Regions from separate parts of the Homo sapiens genome. Here all the other regions are linked to region 3. Evidence: fine-mapped expression QTL. A gene starts in region 3. Each other region holds a variant in brackets. All regions are shown on one strand. Distances are from middle to middle. Region 1 overlaps ATP6V1C2 (ATPase H+ transporting V1 subunit C2). Region 2 has its middle 12 kb from the start of PDIA6. Region 3 holds the start of ATP6V1C2 (ATPase H+ transporting V1 subunit C2).

The links. PIP is the estimated chance that this variant, and not a neighbour inherited with it, causes the effect.
Region 1: its variant is the best candidate, but not a certain one, in a credible set for the expression of ATP6V1C2 in visceral fat (GTEx, PIP 0.79).
Region 2: its variant is the best candidate, but not a certain one, in a credible set for the expression of ATP6V1C2 in lung (TOPMed, PIP 0.59).

What each region holds. Positions count from the first base shown.
Region 1 is chr2:10,781,833-10,789,987 of GRCh38, reverse strand. ATP6V1C2 (ATPase H+ transporting V1 subunit C2) reads right to left here. Exons shown (of 14, transcript NM_001039362.2): 13 at 7,613-7,745; 14 at 4,878-6,814. The coding sequence ends at 6,725. PDIA6 (protein disulfide isomerase family A member 6) reads left to right here. Exons shown (of 13, transcript NM_005742.4): 8 at 99-239; 9 at 1,007-1,091; 10 at 1,219-1,291; 11 at 2,549-2,707; 12 at 4,958-5,054; 13 at 5,662-6,597. The coding sequence ends at 5,730. Among named protein-coding and RNA genes, the nearest start is that of PDIA6, 27 kb to the left of the region's middle. The variant C/TC (reference allele first, on the strand shown) is at 3,663.
Region 2 is chr2:10,820,282-10,828,461 of GRCh38, reverse strand. It overlaps a transcript of PDIA6 not described here. Among named protein-coding and RNA genes, the nearest start is that of PDIA6, 12 kb to the right of the region's middle. RefSeq lists an enhancer at 7,550-8,180. The variant G/A (reference allele first, on the strand shown) is at 4,601.
Region 3 is chr2:10,718,004-10,726,159 of GRCh38, reverse strand. ATP6V1C2 (ATPase H+ transporting V1 subunit C2) reads right to left here and starts at 4,530. Exons shown (of 14, transcript NM_001039362.2): 1 at 4,429-4,530; 2 at 3,182-3,336. The coding sequence starts at 3,310.

The sequences.
Region 1 (8,155 bases), 64 kb before region 3:
AAAAAAATTACCTATAAGGTGGTTTTAGAAACTGTAAAGATTGTGTTATTTTGCATTAAGTGTTAATTGGATTTTATCCTCTGACCTTTTTTTAATAGATTAGAGGATTTCCTACAATCAAGATATTTCAGAAAGGCGAGTCTCCTGTGGATTATGACGGTGGGCGGACAAGATCCGACATCGTGTCCCGGGCCCTTGATTTGTTTTCTGATAACGCCCCACCTCCTGAGCTGCTTGAGGTAAACCACTTCAACTGCTTGTAGTCCAGAAAGCTTTTTTAGCTGATGGTGAGGAATGTTAAAGCAGTGTGACACACTGTTCATTTTATGCCCTTAAAGATACTCTCTTTAAAGTGGTTTCTATACTTTGAAATGGAAAAAAAGTCTGATAAATTGCTTTTCATAACTTTTAGCATTAGAATAATTACACTGAACAGAAATACGAGCTTCTTAAAGATAGAGTGTATTCAATCACTCTTGCTTATCATTCTCAAAGTAATAGAACATTTATCAAGTACTAATCATGTAACAGGCACCGTTCTGGTGTCTTTGTATAGTTTTGTTTTGTTTTGTTTTGTTTTCATTTAATTCTCACATGAACACTGAGAGGTAGATACTGTTTTTAATCTCCATTTTATATATGGGGAAATTGAGGCACAGAGCCTCAAGTGTGTATAAACATATAAGACATATAATACATGTAAGTATAATCTATTTAAACAAGTAAGTGGCAGAGCCAGGCTGTGTCCAGGCATTGCGATTTCAGAGATGTTTGTATGTGTGCTAATCACCCCACCTCCACCACCACAGCTTCCACAGGCTTAAGAATCAGTAGCAGAAAAATCTCCTCTTAGAGAACATGCCTCCAGGTGTTTCCATACGAGGAAGTAGTCGTGGGAGAAATGTTTTCAATGAAAGTGACGGTGCGAAGGTCTTGTTTGCCAGCTTACCTTTAGGTGTTGTATCATGCAGCCTCCTGATTGTCCCTTGTCTTTTGGGTCCCACAGATTATCAACGAGGACATTGCCAAGAGGACGTGTGAGGAGCACCAGCTCTGTGTTGTGGCTGTGCTGCCCCATATCCTTGATACTGGTAAGACAGACGGAAATGATTTCCCTTAGCTGTTCTATGCTAGATGCTCTGAGAATACTTTCTAAATGGATTAATTTTATGGACTCCTTTATCTTTACCTTTAAAAAACTTTGTCTATTTAAATCAGGAGCTGCAGGCAGAAATTCTTATCTGGAAGTTCTTCTGAAGTTGGCAGACAAATACAAAAAGAAAATGTGGGGGTAAGTTACTGAGCTTACTGTCTGAGTGTCATCTGAACAGCTGATTATAGGCTTTCTTGAGAGTGGTTCCCCCGTGTTTTTGTAAGCTGTGTTCTATGTTTGCTCTGCTATATGTTTTTTTTTTTTTTCCCTCCTGCCTCAGCCTCCCAAGTAGCTGGGATTATAGGCGCCCGCCACCACACCCAGCTAATTTTTGTATTTTTAGTAGGGTCAGGGTTTCACCATGTTGTCTAGGCTGGTCTCAAAACTCCTGACCTCAAGTGATCCACCTGCCTCCACCTCCCAAAGTCCTGGGATTACAGGTGTAAGCCACCGCACCCGGCCTGCTCTGCTATATGTTTTTATTCAGGATGTGAAAACTTTATCATGGGAGGAAAAGAAGGAATGAAGGGCTGTCAGCACAGCATGCATTTTTCTCATAGGAATCATGTTTTACATGGTGATTGGAGTGCCAGGTTAGCAGGCAGACACATAAGGAGTAGTGCACCTGAATTCTACTGTGAACTTGAAGGCTGGGTGAGAAAGGGGAAATAGAATTGTTTCCTTCTCCTCTTCTGAGTTAAGGACTGGATCTAGGCACATTTTCAAAACAGTGTATCTCTTTCCTATTTTATCCTTTTTTTTTTTTTTTGAGACAGAGTCTCACTCTCTTGCCCAGGGTGGAGTGCAGTGGCACAATCTCGGCTTACTGCAACCTCCGCCTCCCGGGTTCAAAAGATCCTCCTGCCTTAGCCTCCTGCGTAGCTGGGACTACAGGCGCACGCCACCATGCCCGGCTAATTTTTGTGATTTTAGTAGAGATGGGGTTTGCACCATATTGGTCAGGCTGGTCTCGAACTCCTGACCTCAGGTGATCCACCTATCTTGGCCTCCCAAAGTGCTGGGATCACAGGCGTGAGCCACCGTGCCCAGCCTCCTTCCTATTTATCTTTTTGCTTCTTGTCCTCAGTATCCATTGCTTTCCCCAGGTACCTAGCGCCCCCTGTTGTCCCTCTCTCGATGACCTTGCTCCTCCTCCATTAGTCCAGCAAATGTTTATTAGATGCCTACAGAACGCGAGAACATGCTTAATAACCCAAATGATATTGGTGGGATTTCAGGTAAAAAGGGAAAATCCATATAGAAACTCATCTTTTGTTTTTATTTGTCATTCTACGAAATATCTGAAGCGTGATCTTTTGTTCTCTAAGATCTTCTAGTTAGATCGTAAGCAATTTAAAAGACATATTTGCCCTAAAAACCAGTCTGGTTTTCTAGGTGGCTGTGGACAGAAGCTGGAGCCCAGTCTGAACTTGAGACCGCGTTGGGGATTGGAGGGTTTGGGTACCCCGCCATGGCCGCCATCAATGCACGCAAGATGAAATTTGCTCTGCTAAAAGGCTCCTTCAGTGAGCAAGGCATCAACGAGTTTCTCAGGTAATTTGTTTTCTTAGGTTGTTTGTTGTTTTGTCTGTTTGTTTGGTTCTGTTGTAGGTTTATATTTGGAACTAGGTATATATAAGCCAGGTAATAAATGGAATTTAAAATGCAAACTAATTCCAGAGAATTGAATGTTTATACATTAGAGTTTTTAAATTGTCTCCCTGTTCGTTCTTTTTTCCATGGAATACTCTGCTTGCGGGATGAGGAGAAAGCATTGCTACCCTCGGGCCGCCCTGTGTGCCATTCTGTGCATCTGGCCCTGGGCTCTTTCTCATTCTCATAAAGGTCTCATATGGGCTAGAGGCAGCCCTGTCTGTCCATCCTCACCCTCATATGCATTGTAATCTTGACCTTGGGGAAATGTGGTTTCCATTTCTGGGCACTTGGCTTTGGAATGTAGTTATTTATTTGAAAATGGGCGTACTTAAGTTACTCCAACAATGTGCAAACAACATGATAGGTTCTAAAACCAATATACAGAGCTGTCTACTCTGCTCTGCTATTCAGCTCACCTAATCATCTTTTAGGCAATACAGGGCATTGACCTAAAGAGGTTTTATTTCCCATTCTTGCTTTCTTCCGCGTTCATTTCTTAGCTGCTGTATAAGAGATGTTCAGCACACAAAAGGTAGTTGAGAGGCTTGTGTTGAATAATGAATAGGAAGAACAGTACATGAAAGCCTGCAGTGCTCTTGCTGCCAGTCTTCCTACTTGACACAGAAGTTTGTGTGCTGTGTGGAGACGTGTGTGTGTGCTGTGTGGAGAGTAGGGGCTCCAAAGTCAGGTGCCTCAGTCACAGCTCTGCCTTGAGTAGTGAAGTGGGAGGCATGGAGGAAGCCCTGTGAGATCAGCTGCTTCAGCCTCTGCCGGCGGGGGGCAGACTGTGGCTCCTTCCCTCCCAGCTCTCTCTCATTGTAGTTGGTTAATATGGTTAATGGGTGTTTTCTTT[C/TC]CCCCCCACCCCCGAGACAGAGTCTTGCTGTGTCGTCCGGGCTGGCACGATCTCGGCTCACTGCAACCTCCACCTCCCGGGTTCAAGTGATTCTCCTGCCTCAGCCTCCTGAGTAGCTGGGATTACAGGCGCCTGCCACCACGCCCAGCTAATTTTTGTATTTTTAGTAGAGATGGGTTTTCACCAGGTTGGCCAGGCGGGTCTCAAACCCCTGACCTCAAGTGATCCACCCACCTCAGCCTCCCAAAATGCTGGGATTACAGGTGTGAGCCACCACGCCTGGCCAAGGGGGTGTTTTCATTAAGTTTGTGGGGCTGGGTGCGGTGGCTCACGCCTGTAATTCCAACACTTTGGGAGTCTGAGGCAGGCGGATCACTTGAGGCCAGGAGTTCGAGACCAGGCTGGCCACCACGGTGAGACCTTATGTCTACTAAAAATACAAAAAATAGGCCAGGTGTGGTGTTGTAGGCCTGCAGTCCTAGCTACTAGGGAGGCTGAGGCACACCCAGGAGGTGGACGTTGCAGTGAGCTGAGATCACACCACTGCACTCCAGCCTGGGCAAAAGAGTGTGACTTGGTCTCAAAGAAAAAGAAGTTTGTGGACTGCTTAAGTTTGTGATTGTCATAGAGTAGTATTTATTAAATCATGAAGTCAGAATGTGAATATATCTCCTGTAATTTTTTTTTCTAATAATAGGTTTGCTTATTCTAGCCCATTGGTGCCATAGATTGTTAGTCTAGCTCTATTATTCTATGAGTTGTTTGGTGAACTCTAAATATTTGTGCCCACAGTATTTCTGGCTCTGGTTTCCCAACAGCCAGATTACACCAGGTCTGGTATGTTTCAAGTACTGATGTTTATGCACATACGCACCCCGCTCTCTGCCAGCGCACTGGAACCAGTCGCCTCACTTCTGATATGCTCCCTCTGTACAGGTTCACAGCAGTCTTAGAAAGCTCGCAGGCAGCCCATGTTCTAGATCAACTTTGATAATTATTTATGTATTTAATTTGTATTTCAGCAAATGCTCTGCTATTTTTAAAAGCTTACTGATAGCAACTGACTTTATCTGATGCAGGGGGCTTAGTTGGGAATGTTGAATCTGGTTGTAATGTTGTCCGTGATTAAAAAGATAATGTCCTCAAGGTGTTTCTGAGGAATGTAGTGCAGCAAGAGAGAAGAAATGCCTCTGCATAAACAAAGTAGGCAGACTGTTATTTTTAAAGTTGTTTATTCTTCTGCACCAGCAGTCCATTGTAAATGTGTGTGTGTGTTTTGGTCATTTTTCCCTAAGGGAGCTCTCTTTTGGGCGTGGCTCCACGGCACCTGTAGGAGGCGGGGCTTTCCCTACCATCGTTGAGAGAGAGCCTTGGGACGGCAGGGATGGCGAGGTGAGTGCCCGGGAGGGAAGCTGTGCGGGCAGCAGTCCTGGTTTACTCTCTTGAGCCTGTGCATCTCTGCACCTGGAGTCAAGTCCTTCCCATCAGACCTCAGCCCTGGTGCACCCGTGGGCCTTTTAAGAGGTTCTTCTCTGAAGACCCTTCATCTTCCTTATCACAAGTTTAAGTGCTGCATGGCATTTGATACTCTTGACAGCCAAGATACATTTCAGTAGTAAGGTTGCTTTCCTGATTATTACCTTAAAGTGAACATTTAACCTGGAATTCATTTACTTTATCTTAGAAAAATAGAAAATGATAGCTTTGAAATTAGCACTTATTTCTGTACTGTTGTGTCCCACCCTCCTCAAAAGGACACGTTCAAGTGGCTTCCAGTGTTAAAATGGTGAGTGATGTGATGTTGAAATGTTTCACCTGAGTTCTGAGCTTTTCCATCCGTATAATCATAGGTACGAAGGTCAGGGTAGGAGTCAGACTGAGGAGAACCTGGATTGTAGCAGGAGTAGCTCCAGAGAGTCGCTCTTCCATAAAATGAGATGTTGACCTTCCAGGGTGTCCCCTTCTGCAGATCTAACAGTGGCTTTCTGTCGTCTCCCAGCTTCCCGTGGAGGATGACATTGACCTCAGTGATGTGGAGCTTGATGACTTAGGGAAAGATGAGTTGTGAGAGCCACAACAGAGGCTTCAGACCATTTTCTTTTCTTGGGAGCCAGTGGATTTTTCCAGCAGTGAAGGGACATTCTCTACACTCAGATGACTCTACCAGTGGCCTTTTAACCAAGAAGTAGTACTTGATTGGTCATTTGAAAACACTGCAACAGTGAACTTTTGCATCTCAAGAAAACATTGAAAAATTCTATGAATTGTTGTAGCCGGTGAATTGAGTCGTATTCTGTCACATAATATTTTGAAGAAAACTTGGCTGTCGAAACATTTTTCTCTCTGACTGCTGCTTGAATGTTCTTGGAGGCTGTTTCTTATGTATGGGTTTTTTTTAATGTGATCCCTTCATTTGAATATTAATGGCTTTTTCCATTAAAGAATAAAATATTTTGGACAATGCCGATAAATGTATGAAGTTAGTATCCACATCATAAATTCAGAGTGATGTTTAGCAGTAAATCAATATTTTGAAGTGATACACAGATGTCTTTCCTCCCCACAAACTTTTTTAAACAAAAAACAAGACCTCTTTTCTTTAGATGGTGCCACCTATGCCCACCACAACAGAGATTTTACATGGAAACCGGGCTCAGTGAGAACTGATTTCCTGCCCAATATTTGTCTTTGGGCTGTCTCTAGTGACTAATTATTAAGGAATCTAGCTGGTTATACAGTTCAAGGCTTTCTATGTTGTTAATGAACCTCAAAATAGCCGTTAAGACATGAAATACAGCAGCAGGTTACCAATGCGAACAGGTAGTTCGCATTTATGTAAAACATTCAGAAAATGAAGTTTTGAATTTGTTGGAACATTCAAAGGACTTGAGAGCATTTTATTGTAACTTAAAAAAATAAATACAACTGTCACTAACTTTTGTGAGCAATTTCTCTGAAAAAGATCTTAGTTCTGTAAGACATTTGAACCATTCTCTGGCTAAAGGAAAGAGGTGTCTGTAATAATCTGCACGAACATGAGACAGAGGTGCCAGCTGGCCTTTCTAGTCAAGAAGACTAAGGTCAATATGGAAGTAGACATAAGGAAAATAGTCTTGGTTATTGAGTTGCAGTCCCGGGATCTCCACAGATGCCTACAAAAGAAGACATGGTAATGCTCTAAGTGCATAAACTAGTTTCCTGTCTTATCCTTTTAGTTTTGAGGAAGCTCGCCAGGCACTGAGCGTACGTTCTGCTCTGCGTAGCTGTGGTCCACCCCTCCAACCCTCTCCTTGCTGTGCTTTAATGTGTATGACATGTAGATTTTCATAACAGGCTGACAGATAGTTTTGCTTTGTTTTGTTTTTGAGACAGTTTCTGTCACCCAGGCTGGACTCAGCTCACTGCCTGCCTCAGACTCCCAAGTAGCTGGGATTACAGGCATGCACCACCACTCCTGGCAAATTTTTTTTTTTTTTTTTTTTTTTTTTTTTTTTTTGAGACAGAGTCTTGTTCTGTCGCCAGGCTGGAGTGTAGTGGCGTGATCTCAGCTCACTGCAACCTCCGCCTCCCAGGTTCAAGCGATTCTCCTGCCTCAACCTCCCAAGTAGCTGAGACTACAGGCACACACCACCATACCCAGCTAATTTTTGTATTTTTAGTAGAGACAGGGTTTCACCATGTTGGCCAGGTTGGTCTCCATCTCTTGACTTCGTGATCCACCCGCCTTGGCCTCCTGAAGTGCTGGGATTACAGGCGTGAGCCACTATGCCCAGCCCAATTTTTTTTTTAGTAGAGACAGGGTCTTACCATGTTGGCTAGGCTGGTCTCAAACCCTTGACCTCAAGTGATCCACCTACCTCCCAAAGTGTTGGGATTACAGGCAGATACCAGTTTTTTGAAAGTAAGATGCTGAGCTTACTGTAGAAATACTGCTGTTTCTGGATACCTACATCCAGTATACTTGTAGCGGCTACTTCATCCAGATGTCGGAAGACAGAGTTTAGAACCTCTCTTAAACGCTTGGTGGATGACTTCTTATGCGGCTGCAGGAGCACTGCCTGGAAGTTCACTGGTAGTCCATACCTTTTCAGATAGACAAAATGTGTCAGTTCACTGCTCCAAATGCAAACACGGATAGAAGGAACCTGACCAGAAACAGTACATTCCGAGGGTGAAAAGCTTCAACCAACACAGCTTCATAAAGTCAAACTCGAGCAAAATGCCTAGGGTCAGCGGTGATCTCTGGATAGAAAAAGCTCTAGAATTTGCTAACCCCCTTCTGATAGCTAGTTTTCAACTATAGAGCAAAAGAGGTCATCCCTCTGGCCATGAATGGCCATTCCACGGTGCATGCTCAAGTTGAATGCAGGTAGTTGGACTGAACATTCGGACTCCAAGGCGTTTGTCTAAAACCCAGCTCGGCCGTTTTTCTCCACTAAAGGAGAGGCAAAAATCTGGTTTATCAAGATTGTTACTATTTTCGCTGAGTTTTT
Region 2 (8,180 bases), 100 kb before region 3:
CACACACCCTACTGGAACAGGGTGCTCCAGGCTGTGCCCATGGCCTCGACACTCTGCACTTCTTAAAGGGGAAATGACAAACGGCAGCCTGTTATTTCTCTTCCTCACCCTCTGAAACTACTTCCTGCCCATTGAATTTCTGATACATTTTAATTGAAAAATTGATATACAGATAAAGCAAATTGGGGGTAGGTTGGAATGAATAGTTGGAGCACAGAGGATTTTTAGGACAGTGAAACTACTGTGTCTGATACTATAAGAGTAGATGTGTGTCATCTCCATCTGTCCAGACCCATAGAATGCACAACACCAAGTGTGAACCCTAATGTAAACTGTGGGCTCTGGGGGATAATGAGGTGTCAATGTAGGTTCATTGTAACAAACATGCGGGCTGCTGCGGTGTGGGATGTTGATAGTGGGGAAGGCTGTGTGTGTGGCAGGGGGAGGGGTTTTATGGGGAATTCACTGTCCCCCTCAACTTTGCTGTAAACCTAAAACTGCTCTAATAGACTAAATGAAGTCTATTAATTTTATTACATTGCATTAAAAAAATAAAAATAAAAAGATTAAACTTTCACAAACTTTTTTTTTACTCTAGTTCTAAAGAATTGCAAGAAAAAAAAAATTTTTTTTTTTTTGAGACAGAGTCGTACTCTGTCACCCAGGCTGGAGTGCAGTGGCGTGATCTCGGCTCACTGCAACCTGTGCCTCCCAGATTCAAGTAATTCTCCTGCCTCAGCCACCTGAGTAGCTGGGATTACAGGTGTGTGCCTCCATATCCCACTAATTTTTGTATTTTTAGTAGAGACGAGGTTTCACCATGTTGGCCAGGCTGGTCTTGAACTCCTGGCCTCAAGTGATCTGCTCACCTCAGCCTCCCAAAGTGCTGGAATTACAAGTGTGAGCCACCACATCCAGCCCTTATATTTCTTCTGAAAACCTACACTTTCATTAAATTTTCAATCACTAAACTTTATTAGTATGTGGCAGACACTGTTGTAGACAGATGTTGCCAGCACATAGGAAGGTTCTCCTCTGTTCCCTCATGGAGGCTTCATCCTAGTGAAGACAGATGATAAACAAATAAATATGTAAATAAGGCTGGGTGCGGTGGCTCACACCTGTAATCCCAGCACTTTGGGAGGCTGAGGAGGGCGGATCATCTGAGGTCAGAAGTTTGAGACCAGCCTGGCCAACATAGTGAAACCCCGTCTCTACTGAAAATACAAAAATTAGCCAGGTGTGGTGGTGCATAACTGTAGTCCCAGCTACTCAGGAGGTTGAGGCAGGAAATTGCTTAAACCCGGGAGGCGGAGGTTGCAGTGAGCCGAGACTGTGCCATTGCACTCCAGCCTGGGCAGTAGACCAAGACTTCATCTCAATCAATCAATCAATCAGACACATATGAATTCTGATCAGTTCTGAGGAGAAACTAAACACCAAGTTTGATGAACTGCTCACCCGGGGGCACTGTCACTTCAGATCACCTGGTGTGAGAAGAGCCTGAAGAGGTGGTACATAAGCTGAGACTGCAGTGATGGAGGCAGCAGGTCGTGCCAAGGCCCGAAGGCAGGAACCAGCCTGTTGTGTCTGAGGAAATGAAAGAATACTGCCATGAACAGAGGGAAAGAGGGAGGGGTTTGAGGTGACGTCAGAGGCAGGCTCTTAAAGGTCTGCTCAGGAGGGCAGATTTTTCTTCTATGTCTTATAAGAAGCCACTGGGAAAGGTTCTGTCTGTTTAACAGTTTTATTGAGATATAATCCACACACCATATGATTCACCCAATTAAAGCGTATAATTCGACCTGGCACAGCGGCTCACGCCTGTAATCCCAGCACTTTGGGAGGCTGAGGCAAGCAGATCACCTGAGGTCAGGGGTTTGAGACCAGCCTGGCCAACATGGCAAAACCTCCTCTCTACTAAAAATACAAAAATTAGCCGGGTGTGGTGGCAGGCGCCTGTAATTCCAGCTACTCGGGAGGCTGAGGCAGGAGAATGGCTTGAATCCAGGAGGCAGAAGTTGCAGTGAGCCAAGACTGCGCCATTGCACTCCAGCCTAGGCAACAAGAGCGAGACTCCATAAAAAAAAAAATCCATTATTCAATGGTTTTTAGTAAATTCATAGATATGTGCAACTGTCCTCTCCCAACTCCCAGCCCTAGACAGCCACAAACCTACTTTCTGTCTCTATAGACTTCCTAGTTCCGAACTTGAATATGAAAGTAATCATGTGGTTATTTTGAGTCTGGCTTCTTCCACTTAGCATAATGTCATCAAGGTCAATCCATATCGTGGCATGCCACTGCGCTTCCTTCCTTTTAATAGCTGAATAATATTTCCGTTGTATAGCATGGCACTTTTCGTTCATCCATTCGTCAGGTGATGAACATTTGAGTTATTTCAGCCTTTTGATTATGATGAATAATGTTGCTAAAACATACCTGTATGTGTTTTGTGTGGACATGTGTTTCATTTTCTTGGGTAGATGCCTAGGAGTGGAATTTCTGGATCACATGGTAACTGTTGAATTATTTGAGGAGCTGTTGGACTGTTCTCTAAAGTGGTTGCACCATTTTACATTCCCAAAAGCCGGTGTTGGAGGGTTCCAATTTCTCCACCTCTTCACCAACACTTGTTATTCTCTGACTTTGATTCTAGCCAAGCCAGTGGGTATGAAGTTATTTCTCATTGTGGTTTTGATGGACATTTCTCTGGTAACTAATGACGCTGAGCATCTTTTCATGTGCTTTATTGGCCGTTTCTATGTCTTCCTTGGAGAAATGTCTACTCAGATCCTTTGGGCATTTTTAAATTGGTTCTTTTGTCTTCTTATTATTGAGTTGTAATCATTCCTTATACATTCTAGATACTAGTTCATTACCAGACATATCATTGCAAATATTTTATCCCACACTGTGTGTTGTCACTTCCTTGATGGTGCCCTTTGAAGCACAAAAGGTTTTAATTTGATGAATTCCAAATTGTCTATTTCTCTTCTGTTGTCCATTGGAAAGTTTTAAGTAGGGGAGAGGAGTGTGAACTAATTTAAACTTTTTCAAGAATCCATAAGAGTCTGCTTTGTGGAAAAAGAATTTTAAGATACCGTATTAGTCAGGATTCTCTAGAGGGACAGAACTAATAGGATATATATATACAGAGAGAGAGAGAGACAGAGAGAGAGACAGAGAGAGAGACAGAGAGAGACAGAGAGAGAGAGGAGTTTTTAAAATATTAACTCACATGATCGCAAGGTCCAAAAATAGGCCATCTGCAGGCTGAGGAGTAAGGAGAGCCAGTCCAAGTCCCAAAACTGAAGAACTTGGAGTCTGATGTTTGAGGGCAGGAAGCATCCAGCATGGGAGAAAGATGTAGGCTAGGAGGCTAGGCCAGCCTGGCCTTTTCACGTTTTTTTCCACCTGCTTCATATTCTAGCTGTATTGGCAGCTGATTAGCTGGTGCCCACCCAGATTAAGGGTGGGTCTGCCTTTCCCAACCCACTGACTCAAATGTTAATCTCCTTTGGCAACACCCTCACAGACACACCCAGGATCAATACTTTGCATCCTCCAATCCAATCAAGTTGACACTCTATATTAACCATCACAGATACCAAGAGTGAAAATAGAAAGACCAATTAGAAACCCAAATCAAACTTGCTTAAACAATAAAGATGATTTCATATTTCAATAACTGGAATGTTCAGCTGAAGGACAGTCTTCAGACACTGATCAGGTATTGTCTCCATTTCTCCGTGACTGTTTCAGCTCTGCCCCGCTTCAGCTTCATCCCCACGTGGGTTTTCCTCATCTTGTGGGGTAGTTTCCAGGGACAACAGGGATCCATGCTTCTGCCCAAGCAAATGCCACTCTTCTAGCCATTGACCAAAGTCCAGAGCTTCACTCTGATTGGTTTATGTCACATGCTCACCCTGGAACAATCACTGTGGCCATGTGAATGCCACTGGCCACTTGGCTTAGTGGCTATTGTGGTGACAAACCCCTTCCTGAGCCAATAACTGTGGCAAGGGGGATAGAGTTCTGCCAGCTGGACAACGCTGCTAGAATCCACCCAGGGTTGCTACACAATGGGGAGGGGCAGCAGAACACTCGACAGGTGTCATCGGCCACAGACATGTAATCACGGAATGTAAGCTGCCCCCAGGGATGGGGCATAACCTTGGGCACAGCAGCTCTTTTTAGCCAATGGAAGGACACAGCCATGAAGCAACAGCAGTCAACACTCCCCATGACTGGAGGTGTGAGTGTCTCCTCCTGAAGCAGAGTCTGGGCTACATACCACAGCATCCACTACAGTATGGAACCAACATTTTTGACTCTGAGATGGCTATCTGCCTACAGGAGGTTTACTGGAGTGTGCTCTTGGCAATGACACCAACAAGGAGGTGGCAAAAATAAGGTTGGGTAAGAGAAGCTAAATCATAAAGCTGAATCATGATGTGGGTGCTTACAAGGGCCTCAGTGGACCCCCATGGGAAGCTTAAAGCTGGGAAGGGCCTTCAGGGTTGTCCCGAATTGAGAAAAGGAGGGCAGTCCTTTGTATCCCCAAATCTATCAGTCATGGAATGTAAGCTGCCCCCAG[G/A]GAGGGAGTATAACCTTGGGCACAGCAGCTCTTTTTAGCCAATGGAAGGACAGAGCCATGAAGCAACAGCAGTCAACACTCCCTATGACTGGAGGTGTGAGTGTCCCCTCCTGAAGTGGGTCTGGGCTACACACCACAACATCCACTACAGTACAGCACTAACATTGTTGACTCTAAGGGGCTACTGCAAAAGTCCACATAGCCATTTGGAACCAAGGTGGTGGCAATTGTGAGAAAGTGGGAAAAATGTCAGCAGATTTTGAATATGTTTTGGTGCTCGAATTATCAGAAATTGCCAAAGAATGTTGGGAGCTGGTGATGGAAAGAGAACCCAATGAGATTTGGGGCTTGAGCAATTGGATTGGTGGTGTCATTGATACAGATGACAAAGTGTTCGCTGAGCACCTAGGCACTGAATAGAGATTTATTTCCTTCTTCTTAACCCTCTCCCACTTTATTCAGAAGTTCATATGAGCCATAACAAGGATTGGAAGAAGTTTTAGAAGTAACCTCCTGGGAGTCCATGAATTAGCAGCAGTGAGAGGCTAGAGGCCTGACAAAGAATTGAGAAGCAGCTGCTATATCCCAAGTGGCAAATGCCAGTGTGGATGGAGAAGAGAGAGCTTCATTCTGTGGCAGGAAAGCTTGGCTGCTGACAATGAGACTGCACCCTTGGGATTTGTCCCTTGGATTCTTTAGCATCTGAGCTCTAACCTCTGAAACACAAGAAAAAATGAGCAAGGTGATTTGTCCAGGCCACCTCTACTTCTGGAGAAAGGAGTCATAGCAAATGATCCACCACTATCTAGTCCCTGAGTGGATTTATACAAACCACCCCGAAGACACTGGGGTACTCTAAGATTGGCCCCAGATAAGCCATGGGGATACAGCACAGAAAAACTGTCCATGGCCAATATCAAAGATGCAGCTGGAGACCAGGCATCATGGGAGGTTCACAAAGGGGAGGCCTTGTCTTGTCCGCAGGAAGCTGCGCTCACAGCTTGTCTCCTCAGACTTGCTAGAGAGGCAACAGCCATAACAAAGGCTCAGACCTCACTTTTGGAGTGGCCACCATATGTTTTGGTTTTAGCTTTGCCTTGCAAATTGTTTAGTAAAGCCAGGCCAGAACATATACCCAAATGCTACTGCACCGATCCCAAGCTACCTGTTTGACTTATTAGATGGTATAGAGGGTGAAGATATTATCACTCTACTAAGTGCCTCCTTATCAATGAGTCCCACTAAGGAGCACGAGCCCACTTATCCCTGTTTGCAGTGCTACATTAAAAATCATTTATGAGGCCAGGCACGGTGGCTCACGCCTGTAATCCTAGCACTTTGGGAGGCTGAGGCGGGTGGATCACGAGGTCAGGAGATCGAGACCATCCTGGCTAACAGGGTGAAACTCCATCTCTACTAAAAATACAAAAAATTAGCCAGGCATCGTGGCGGGCGCCTGTAGTCTCAGCTACTCGGGAGGCTGAGGAAGGAGAATGGCATGAACCCGGGAGGCGGAGCTTGCAGTGAGCCTAGATCGCGCCACTGCACTCCAGCCTGGGCAACACAGCGAGACTCTGTCTCAAAAAAACAAAATAAATAAATAAATAAATAAAAATCATTTATGGCTGGGTGCAGTAGCTCATGCCTGTAATCTCAACACTCTAGCAGGCCGAGGTAGGCTGATCACTTGAGCCCAAGAGTTCAAGACAAGCCTGGACAACATGGTGAAACCCCATCTCTACAAAAATACAAAAATTAGCCAGGCATGGTGGTGCATGCTTGCAGTCCCAGCTACTCGGGAGGCTGAGGTGTGAGGATCACTTGAGCCCAGGAGGTTGAGGCTGTAGTAAGCCGTGATCATACCACTGCACTCCAGCCTGGGCAACAGACTCTGTCTCAAAAAAATTTTTTTTTTAATTTTAAAAATCGTTTATATAAGGCTGGGTGTGGTGGCTCAAGCCTGTAATCCCAAAACTTTGAGAGGCTGAGGCGGGAGGATCACTTGAGCCCAGGAGTTCAAGACCAGCCTGGGTAACATAGTGAGGTCCTGTCTCTACAAAAAATAAAACATTAGCCGGGCATAGCAGCATGTGCCTGTGGTCACAATTACTTGGGAGCCTGAGGCAGGGGGATCACTTGAGCCTAGGGGGTCAAGGCTGCAGCAAGCCATAACTGCGTCACTGCACTCCAGTCTGGGTGACAGAATGAGACCCTGTCTCAAAAAAAAAAATCATTTATTATTGCCCTTGGATAGAATCTTTAAATTCACAGAAACACTTACAACCCTATAGAAGGAGAAGTGCTGAATTGTCGAATTCTCCAACAATGCTTCCTCTTTCTAGATGTTTGCTCAGCATCAATTCAGATACCGCTGAATAGAAGGCAACACCCAACCACACAGCCAGAGGCCTCCTGGGTAAATCGGGGACTGCTCTCCTCTGACCCCTCTTTCTCCTGCCTCTACCCCTTGGCTTCACAGCAATTATTCATTTTTTAACACTCAAATGCTGGGTACCTGTTGCCTATGTCGGGGCACGCTGTTACTCCCTACACACAGGTAAAATTGATTAACCGAATCTTGCCCTCCACTGGCTTACTGTGCAACGGTAGAGACTGGAAGCAACAGACGAGGGTGAGCTTTGGAAGAGCTGATGAGGCCATGATTAATTTCAACTGAGAGGTAAGAGAGGGGGAAGGAAGGAGGTGGATTTCAGCTGGGCCATAAAGGATGGGCAATATTTCAACAACAGAAAAGTGAGAAGAGGGCATTCCAAATCTCCGAAGGCTGTTTTAAAACACGACCTGAAAATTCTGTGGCCATCTCCTCACTGGGAGGTAGAATCCACCCCCCTCCCCTTCGTCCTGGGCCCAACGACCTGCTTAACCAGGGTCAGTTTCCAAACCCAGGTCCTGAAGTGGCAGCTTCCTCTTCCTGACTCTTAGGACGCTCACTCTCAGAGCACAGCTTCCAGAGGAGAGAAGATACCCCCAGCATCCATGAGAAGAGACCTCCGGGAGAAGCTTGTGTGGGTGTGCCGACCACTGGCCCCAGTTGAGGTCCCAGCCAACATCAGCTCCGACTTCCAGCCATGTGAGTGAACTGGCCCAGCTCCCTGGCTTCGGGCCACCCCAGCTGGTGCCGCTGATACAGGAGGTAGAAAGAAATTATTTAGACAGATAGTGAGGACAAAAGAGTCCTCGACAGAACTTCCCTTCTAACAAAAAACAGCTCAAGAAATTATTTTTTTCCTAACGAAGAATAGCCTGAAAAATCAAACTACAGACACAGATAAACAAAGACAACTAGAAAAACTAGAAACTTACACAGGGGAATGCCAACGATGACATCTATAGAAACGAGGCTACCTGGGGGCTGGACATGTCCACCATGGAAGCTCCATCTTCCCCTTCTTTGTTAACACGTGTACAGTAAAAAAGAAATGGGCAACATGACAATTTAGACTGAAAACACACCTGTAATAAAATACTGGGGTGGGGGTTGCCAGAAATGTACACCTTATACAAATGACACACCTGGTCCTAATCAATTTTTCATGCCCTCTGTAGATCAGACACCACC
Region 3 (8,156 bases):
AAGTTAAAGAAGTTCTCATTCCTAAAAGCTTTTCTGCTCCAAGACAGTCCCATCAGTTGTGTTTTTTGTTGTTGTTTTTGAGATGGAGTTTCGCTCTTGTTGCCCAGGCTGGAGTGAAATGGCACGATCTCGGCTCACCTCAACCTCCGCCTCCTGGATTCAAGTGATTCTCCTGCCTCAGCCTTCCTAGGTAGCTGGGATTACAGGTATGCACCATCATGCACGGCTAATTTTTTATTTTTAGTAGAGACAGGGTTTCTCCATGTTGGTCAGGCTGGTCTCGAACTCCCGACTTCAGGTGATCTGCCTGCCTTGGCCTCCCAAAGTGCTGGAATTACAGGCTCAAGCCACTGCACCCGGCCCCACCGTCTTTTTCTCTGTTCTTTGCTGTTATTAACCATGATCTTGAGGCCAAGGTGGGCAGATCACCTGAGTTCAGGAGTTTGAGACCAGCCTGGCCAATATGGCAAAACCCTGTCTCTACTAAAAATACAAAAATTAGCCGGGCATGGTGGCATGTGCCCGTAATCCAAGCTACTTGGGAGTCTGAGGCAGGAAAATCATTTGAACCTCGGAGGTGGAGGTTGCAGTGAGCCAAGATCGCACCACTGCACTCCAGCCTGGTCAGCAGAGCGAGACTGCATCTCAAAAAAAAAAAAAAAAAAAAAAATTCTTGCTGGGGAAGGAGGCAGCTTTTCCTTTCCTCCCACTTCATCATTCACCTAGGTCCTTTTCTTTTCAGAGAACTTATGATCTGTTTTTTTTGTTGTTGTTGTTTTTTATTTTTTGAGATCTCGGCTCACTGCAACCTCCACCTCCCAGGTTCAAGTGATTCTTCTGCCTCAGCCTCCCAAATAGCTGGTATTACAGGCATGTGCCCCACGCCTGGCTTATTTTTTTATATTTTTAGTAGAGATGGGGTTTGGTCATGTTGTCCATGCTGGTCTCAAACTCCTGACCTCAAGTGATCTTCCCACTTCGACCTCCCAAAGGGCTGGGATTACGGGAGTGAGCCACCGTGCCTGGCCATGATCTATTTCTTAGTGTAGAAATTACTACAATGTCCAAAATTGTATTTAAAGGTCTTTTCACAGAATCAGAAAGAAAAGGGTTGCTATCATGTGGTACCACCAACTAGATGTTAAAAAGTAATTAGGTTCTGAGATTTGGCAGAATTTCAAGAAAAAAAAAATTAAGAAAAATAATTAGGAGGCTGGGCACAGTGGCTCACACCTGTAATCTCAACACTTTGGGAGGCCGAAGGTTTGAGACCAAACTGGTCAACCTGGTGACACCCCGTCTCTACTAAAAATACAAAAACTAGCCAGGCATGGTGGCATGTGCCTGTAATCCCAGCTACTGGGGAGGCTGAGGCAGGAGAATCACTTGAACCCAGGAGGCGGAGGTTGCAGTGAGCCTAGATTGCACCACGGCATTCCAGCCTGGGTGACAGAGCGAGGCTCCAACCAAAAAAAAAAAAAAAAAGTAATTAGGAAATGATGAAGCCTGAATATCTCTACCAAGACAAGTCGCTTCTTCTCAAGTAACTTAATTTTAAGCAACTTCTGCAGGGGCTGTGTCTTCTTTTTTTATCTTTTTACCTTCCAGAGTCCAGCACAGTGCCTCACACACAGTATCAATGAGTGGATGCAGAATTTACTCACCCGTACAGTGTCCATTGCTGGACAAGCAGAGGCAGGCTTAAAAAGGCAGCAAGATGTGGTTTCAGAACCCACTGCTGCCACTTACCAGCCTGACAACACTTAGCCTCTCCCAGCCTGTCCCCAGAGTCAGCTTCCCGGTGATGCATTTCAAGTATCTAGCCGTCAGCTCTTTGCTCAACAAACGTTAGCAAATGGGGTAGCATTACAACCCTGGTAGCTGATGGGGCAGCTGTTTGGGCGGAGGGGCAAAGTGAGGTTTGAAAAGGGAGTATATGGCAGTTTTCTACAAGAGCAGATGCTGGGCAGTCAGTGCCATCTCACCAGCACCTGTGCCATGTGGTCTGGGAGAAAGCTGTAGTGTCTTCCCCGTGGAAACCTACAGCCTCAGAAAGCACCACGGTAAGTCCACTCTTTTTGAAGTAAAATAATTGTGTGGCCAGGCGTGGTGGCTCACTCCTGTAATCCCAGCACTTTGGGAGGCCGAGGCAGGTGGATCACCTGAGGGCAGGAGTTTGAGACCAGCCTGCCCAACATGGTGAAACCCCATCTCTACTAATAATACAAAAATTAGCCGGGCATGGTGGCACACGCCTGTAATCCCAGCTACTCGGGGGGAAAAAAATTGCACATGTCTCATTCTTTTTTTTTTTTTTTTTTTGAGACAGAGTCTCGCCGTTCACCCAGGCTGGAGTGCAGTGGCGCAATCTCGGCTCACTGCAAGCTCCACCTCCCGGATTCACACCATTCTCCTGCCTCAGCCTCCCGAGTAGCTAGGACTACAGGCGCTCGCCACCATGCCTGGCTATTTTTTTGTATTTTTTAGTAGAGACGGGGTTTCACCGTGTTAGCCAGGATGGTCTCGATCTCCTGACCTCATGATCCACCCACCTCGGCCTCCCAAAGTGCTGGGATTACAGGCGTGAGCCACCGCGCCTGGCCTCATTCTTCCTTAATGTTGGTTTCGTTTGAACTTTGCCCTCCACTCCAAGAACCCTTAGATGCCTGGGCATGACCCAAACTCTCTTCTGTCACCAAATTCCCTCCCTTCCCCTCCCTCAGGACCAAAGGGATCCTAGATTTCCTCCCCTGCCCCCAGGTCAAGAGTACAATCAAGGCTGAAGCCCCCCAAGCCTGCACATCTAAACTATATGGTGGGTCTTCTGAGATGTTGCAGACAAACCAGGAGGAGCCAGAGGAACACCCAAGAGAACCTGAGTGTGCATTTAACGTGCTTCCCACTTTTTGAAGCATTAGACACTGCTACCCACAACCTTGTCCCCCTGTTCATTCCTTCCTGTGGCTGCATCTACATAGGTATCACAATTTATTTGGGACTATGGCATGATATCCCACCTAGCCCATCACCTCCCCGTCCATCCTCAAACCTCAGCTTGTCCTCAGAGCCCCTGCTTTGCCTTGATACTTTCTCCTTGGCTTCCTGAGGTAGCAACCTGTCTCCCTCTCCTGTCTCCCCCTGACCAATCCATCCCTTTTTCACTCCTCCCCAAGAATTTTACCTTGAAGTCAGGAATAGCGAATTTGGTATTATAAGACAGGTTGGACTTGGAGGTTACAGTATTCATCCTCTCCAGAGCTTGCAAATTTTCCTTATCGCCAGGGGCAGAAATTAACCAAAACTCCGACATGCTTCCAGTCTTCTCTTACCCAGTGACTGCCCAGAACCAGGACAAACATACACAAACAGAAACAGAAGGAGAGATGTGTCAGATATCCCCGCCTCACCACTCCCTACCCTCCAATTCATCCTTTCTAGGATGAGCTCCAAGGACATCCATTTGCAAAAGCAAAGCTCTTATCTCCACCTGGGCAGCCCTCAGGTGTTCCCGAAACTCCAAAGCTCCTTGGTCCCTGCAGTGGTTCTGGCTGGTTTTCAGGAGCAGAGGAGGAGGGAGAGGTTCCTTTCTTTCTCTCCACCTCAGTGAACAACCCCTATCAGGCATCATAAAACGGGAGGACAGTAAGCTGGAGGCGGACACCTTCTGGGGGAATATTTGTCTTCCTTCCACACTGCATCTTCTGGGATGCAGGATGGGGTGGAGGAAGGCGTGGGATGAGGAAGGGATTTTCACAACAGGCTACCAGGTCAAACCGCAGGTCAAACTGGCCAACCTTGTGATTGGTATTAGCTTTAAAAATAGACTTCAGAGGATTTTTTTAAATAAGAAAAAAAAAAGTAGTAGGGGGTGAGGGGAACTACTAAAGTCTTTTTTCCACTAGGCGAGGTGCCCGCTCAGCAGTGCTGGGTCCCTTGCCCGGCGTGGCCGGTGGTTTCGCGGCCGCGTCTGCAGCCTCTACGGCCGATTCGATTCGTGCTGCTCCTTCACAGGTGTCCACACCCGCACCTTTCCCCCTCGGCCAGGTTCCCCCTTTCCGCTTGCCTCCCCGCGGCGTCTCCGGACGGCTGGGGGAAAGCAGGATAAGCTCTGAGGAGCCAGAGACCCCTGGTGGAACCTCTTCCTTTCGGACTCCCGGTCCCGCTCCAATCCGAGGGCATTTTGTTCTCTCCTAACCCCGCGCAGACCCAACGCAGCTCCTTTCCGCCTTGACTGCCCATGGCCTGGGGACGAACTGGCCCGCCGCAGCACCTGCGGAGATGCTACCAGCCCGGCCGCGGGGAAGCGCGCGGAGGTGCACGCTGCCCACGTTTCCAATGGGAAAGCGCAGGCTGGTGCGCAGCCGGACCCCGTGCCTGTGTCCCCACCCCGCCCCTGCCTCGGGTCCCCGCTCCGCGGTGCGTCCTTACCGGGAGCCGGCGGGGCGCGGGCCGCGCGGTAGGGGGCTGCGGGCGACGGGCGGCGGGTGCGGGGCCGGAGCGCTCTGCCGGCTCCCGGGAGGCAGCGGCTTCGCTGCCCCGCGCCCCGCCCCGCCTTTTATCCCGGGCTCTGGAGGCGGCCCCGGCCCCGCAGGATATTTGCATACGGGCCGTCCGCCTCCCGCCTCGCTCCAGCCAGGGGCCCGAGAGCCGGGGAGCAGGTGCAGGCGCCGGGCAGGAAGGCGCGGAGGAGACGCGCAGGGTCTCCAGTCCCCTACGCGCGAGGGCCGGGGCCCTGGGGGCTTCTGCGGCGCGTCCCACGGGGTCTCCTGCCGCACGACTGCGCTGCCGCGTCCGGGACGCGTGGACGGCTGAGCCGGGTGGGAGTCGGGAAAAGGCTCTGAGCTCGGGACCACCCCGCCCTCCCGCTGCGGCCGCCGCAGCCCCGCTTGCCCACCCACTCTCGCCTCACAGAGACATGCGCGGATCTCAGGGGAATCACCTACTCCCAGGTGTCTCCAGGCCAGTGCAAGAGACAGGGCCCACCTGTGGGGAGCCGCGCAACAGGTGCGCAGGTGCTCGGGACGCACCTGCGTAGACAGCGAAGCTTTTCCTGTCCGTGTGGGCGCGGGTGTGCGCCCGGTTGCCCAGGAAACTCCCACCTCACCCTCTCCACCTTCCGAATTGCCCTGTGGATGGGGGGTGGGGGGGCGGTTACAACTCACCGTACGACGATCAGAGATGAGTTCATGATCGGTGCTGTCTGGAACCAGGAGGGGGAAACCCTGGAAATTAACGTGTGAAGGTTAAAAACAAGACAAAACCAAAGGAAAACTCGGAGAATTCATTTTCTCTGGACCGAAGGAGAAGGCTTTAAAGCATCCTTCCATGTGGGCGATGTTTTCAGTGGTTTCTGGGAAAGATGAAGATCTCAAGAGTGTCCTTCGAGGGGGCATTGGAGACGGTGTTCTTGCTTCCTTAAACGTGGACTCCCCCTCCTGTGTAAACTAGCCTTATCTATCAACCCATTCTTGTGAATGCATCAGGGTCTTTGGCAGAAGGATTTGACATCATCTGAGACTTAAGCTGTAATCACATAGGGTGGGATGGGAAGCCCCAGAGACGGGACAGAAAGGTGGCTTTAAGATCACAGTGGGGTCGTACTGCCAGCCTAGGTTAGACTTGGAAGTCCCAGCACCTGCAGCAGGCATCGTTATTGGGACACTAATGTGCATTAGTCAGTCCTTGCAACATCTTCCTGAGGGAGGATACCTGAAACCAAGGGATGGGGAAACTCCGGTATGTTTGAGGACATTAAGTGGCTATTCCAGGGAAGGAGTGGCCCAGTTAGACATTAAAGCGGGGTGGTCTCCAATCTTGGACGTTATCCAGGCACGACATTTTATCCAGCCAGGGAAAACATCTTAGAGCTGGGGGCAGATCTCATCTGCAAACAAGGGTGGAGATGCCCACAGAAGTTACGTGAATTGCCCAGTGTCACACAGCTGGTTATGTCAGAGCTACAGTTGGAACTCGGGCCTGTGGCTGAGTCTTATGTCCTTTCTACTGCTCCCAACAAGCCTGCAGGACTAGATAATCAGGGTGAGGAAGAACACATGCTTTCTATTTTAGTCCACATTTTCCCATCTGCAAGGTTCAAAGCCATGGACCTGGCTTCTCAGAGACTGAGCAACACATTTAGAAGTATCTGTGACCTGGCTCGTGGCACCACTCTTTCTATACACCTGGTTACCTGTAAATACTTTGTTTTGTGCCAGGTGTGGTGGCTTACACCTGTAATCCCAGCACTTTGAGAGGCCAGGTGGGCAGGTCACCTGAGATCAGGAGTTCGAGACCAGCCTGACCAACATGGAGAAACCCCGTCTCTATTAAAAATAAAAAATTATCTGGGTGTGGTGGCGCATGCCTTAATCCCAGCTACTCGGGAGGCTGTGGCAGGAGAATCGCTTGAACCCAGAGGCAGAGGTTGCAGTGAGCCGATATCACACCATTGCACTCCAGCCTGGGCAACAAGAGTGAAACTCCATCTCAAAAAAGAAAACAAAAAACCCAATCCAAACCAAACCAAACCAAACCAAAACAACAACAACAACAACAAACAAAACAAAACAAAACTTTGTTCTGTGAATTAAGAGAGTCAGACACAAATAACTCCTGGATAGGCCAGGCACGGTGGCTCATGCCTGTAATCCCAGTACTTTGGGAGGCCCAGGCGGGTGGCTCACTTGAGATCAGGACTTTGAGACCAGCCTGGCCAACATGGTGAAACCCCATCTTTACTAAAAATACAAAAACTGGCTGGGCACGGTGGCTCACGCCTGTAATCCCAGCACTTTGGGAGGCCGAGGCAGGCGGATCACGAGGTCAGGAGATCAAGACCATCCTGGCTAACACGGTGAAACCCCATCTCTACTAAAAATACAAAAAAATTAGCTGGGCTTGGTGGCGGGCGCCTATAGTCCCAGCTACTCGGGAGGCTGAGGCAGGAGAATGGCGTGAACCCGGGAGGCGGAGGTTGCAGTGAGCCAAGATTGCGCCACTGCACTCCAGCCTGGGCGATAGAGCGAGACTCCGTCCCAAAAAAAAAAAAAAAAACTAGCTGGACATGGTGGTACGCACCTGCGGTCTCAGCTGCTAGGGAGGCTGAGGCGCGAGAATCACTTGAACCTGAGAGGCAGAGGTTACAGTGAGTCGAGACCATGCCACTGTACTCCAGCCTGGGTGACAGAACAAGACTCCATCTCCAAAAACAAAAAACAAAACAAAACAAAAACAAAAACACACAAATAACTTCTGGACATCATCTGATTAAGAAAATAATAAGGACCTACAGTGTTCCTTGTCTTCCTCAAAATCTTCCTACTCAAAATCTAAAATCTTTCTGGTCTTTCACATCTTAAGTTTCTTGTTTCATAGCTGAATTTATAATGGATGATGTCTACTGCTGCAGGGGTAGCTTGATATTTTTCAAATAACTTTTTATCTGCTTATATAGGTAATTCTCTCCTTTTCTTTTCTCCAACAAGAATGAGCTTGAAATTTCTGTTTTTTAAAAAGAATTTGGCAAACAGAGAAGTATAAGGAAGAAAATAAAAATTACTTGTAATTCTATAATTAGCTGCTGTTAACATTTAAATTCTTTATTACCATTAATGCATATTCATGTATAGATGCAGATTTCTTTGCATGATTGAGATTATATATTATTCATAAATCTTGGCATTCTGCTGTTTGCTTTCTAAAGATCAAAAAAGTTATCAAATGTATCTTATCAGTAAAGGATAATCCAATGTCATCAGAGTTTACCACAGCTCAGAACTTGAGTAAGATTCTGAAGCCAAATAAAGATGCCTTGTTAAACAACTTACATCTTGAAAAGGTGGCAAGGCGGGCGGGAATCTTGTCCAAGAGGTTGTTTGATTTGCATTTCTCAAAGGCAACCACATGTGTACTTACCAGTTTTGAGCTAACTTGTGTTTTTCTCTCACAAAGATCAGCCTTTAACAGATAAATAGGGAGAAAACAACAAAAAGTTCTGGAGCCTGCTCCCTTGGTATATTAAAAGAGTATGATTTAGCATTTACACTGTATAAGGAAAGTATTTTTCTTCCATATTTCAACCTGAAGCACCATTTAGCAACCCATTTTCTGTCCCCTCCCTATACAACTTTAAAGTTTCTGAAATCTGCTGCTAAAAG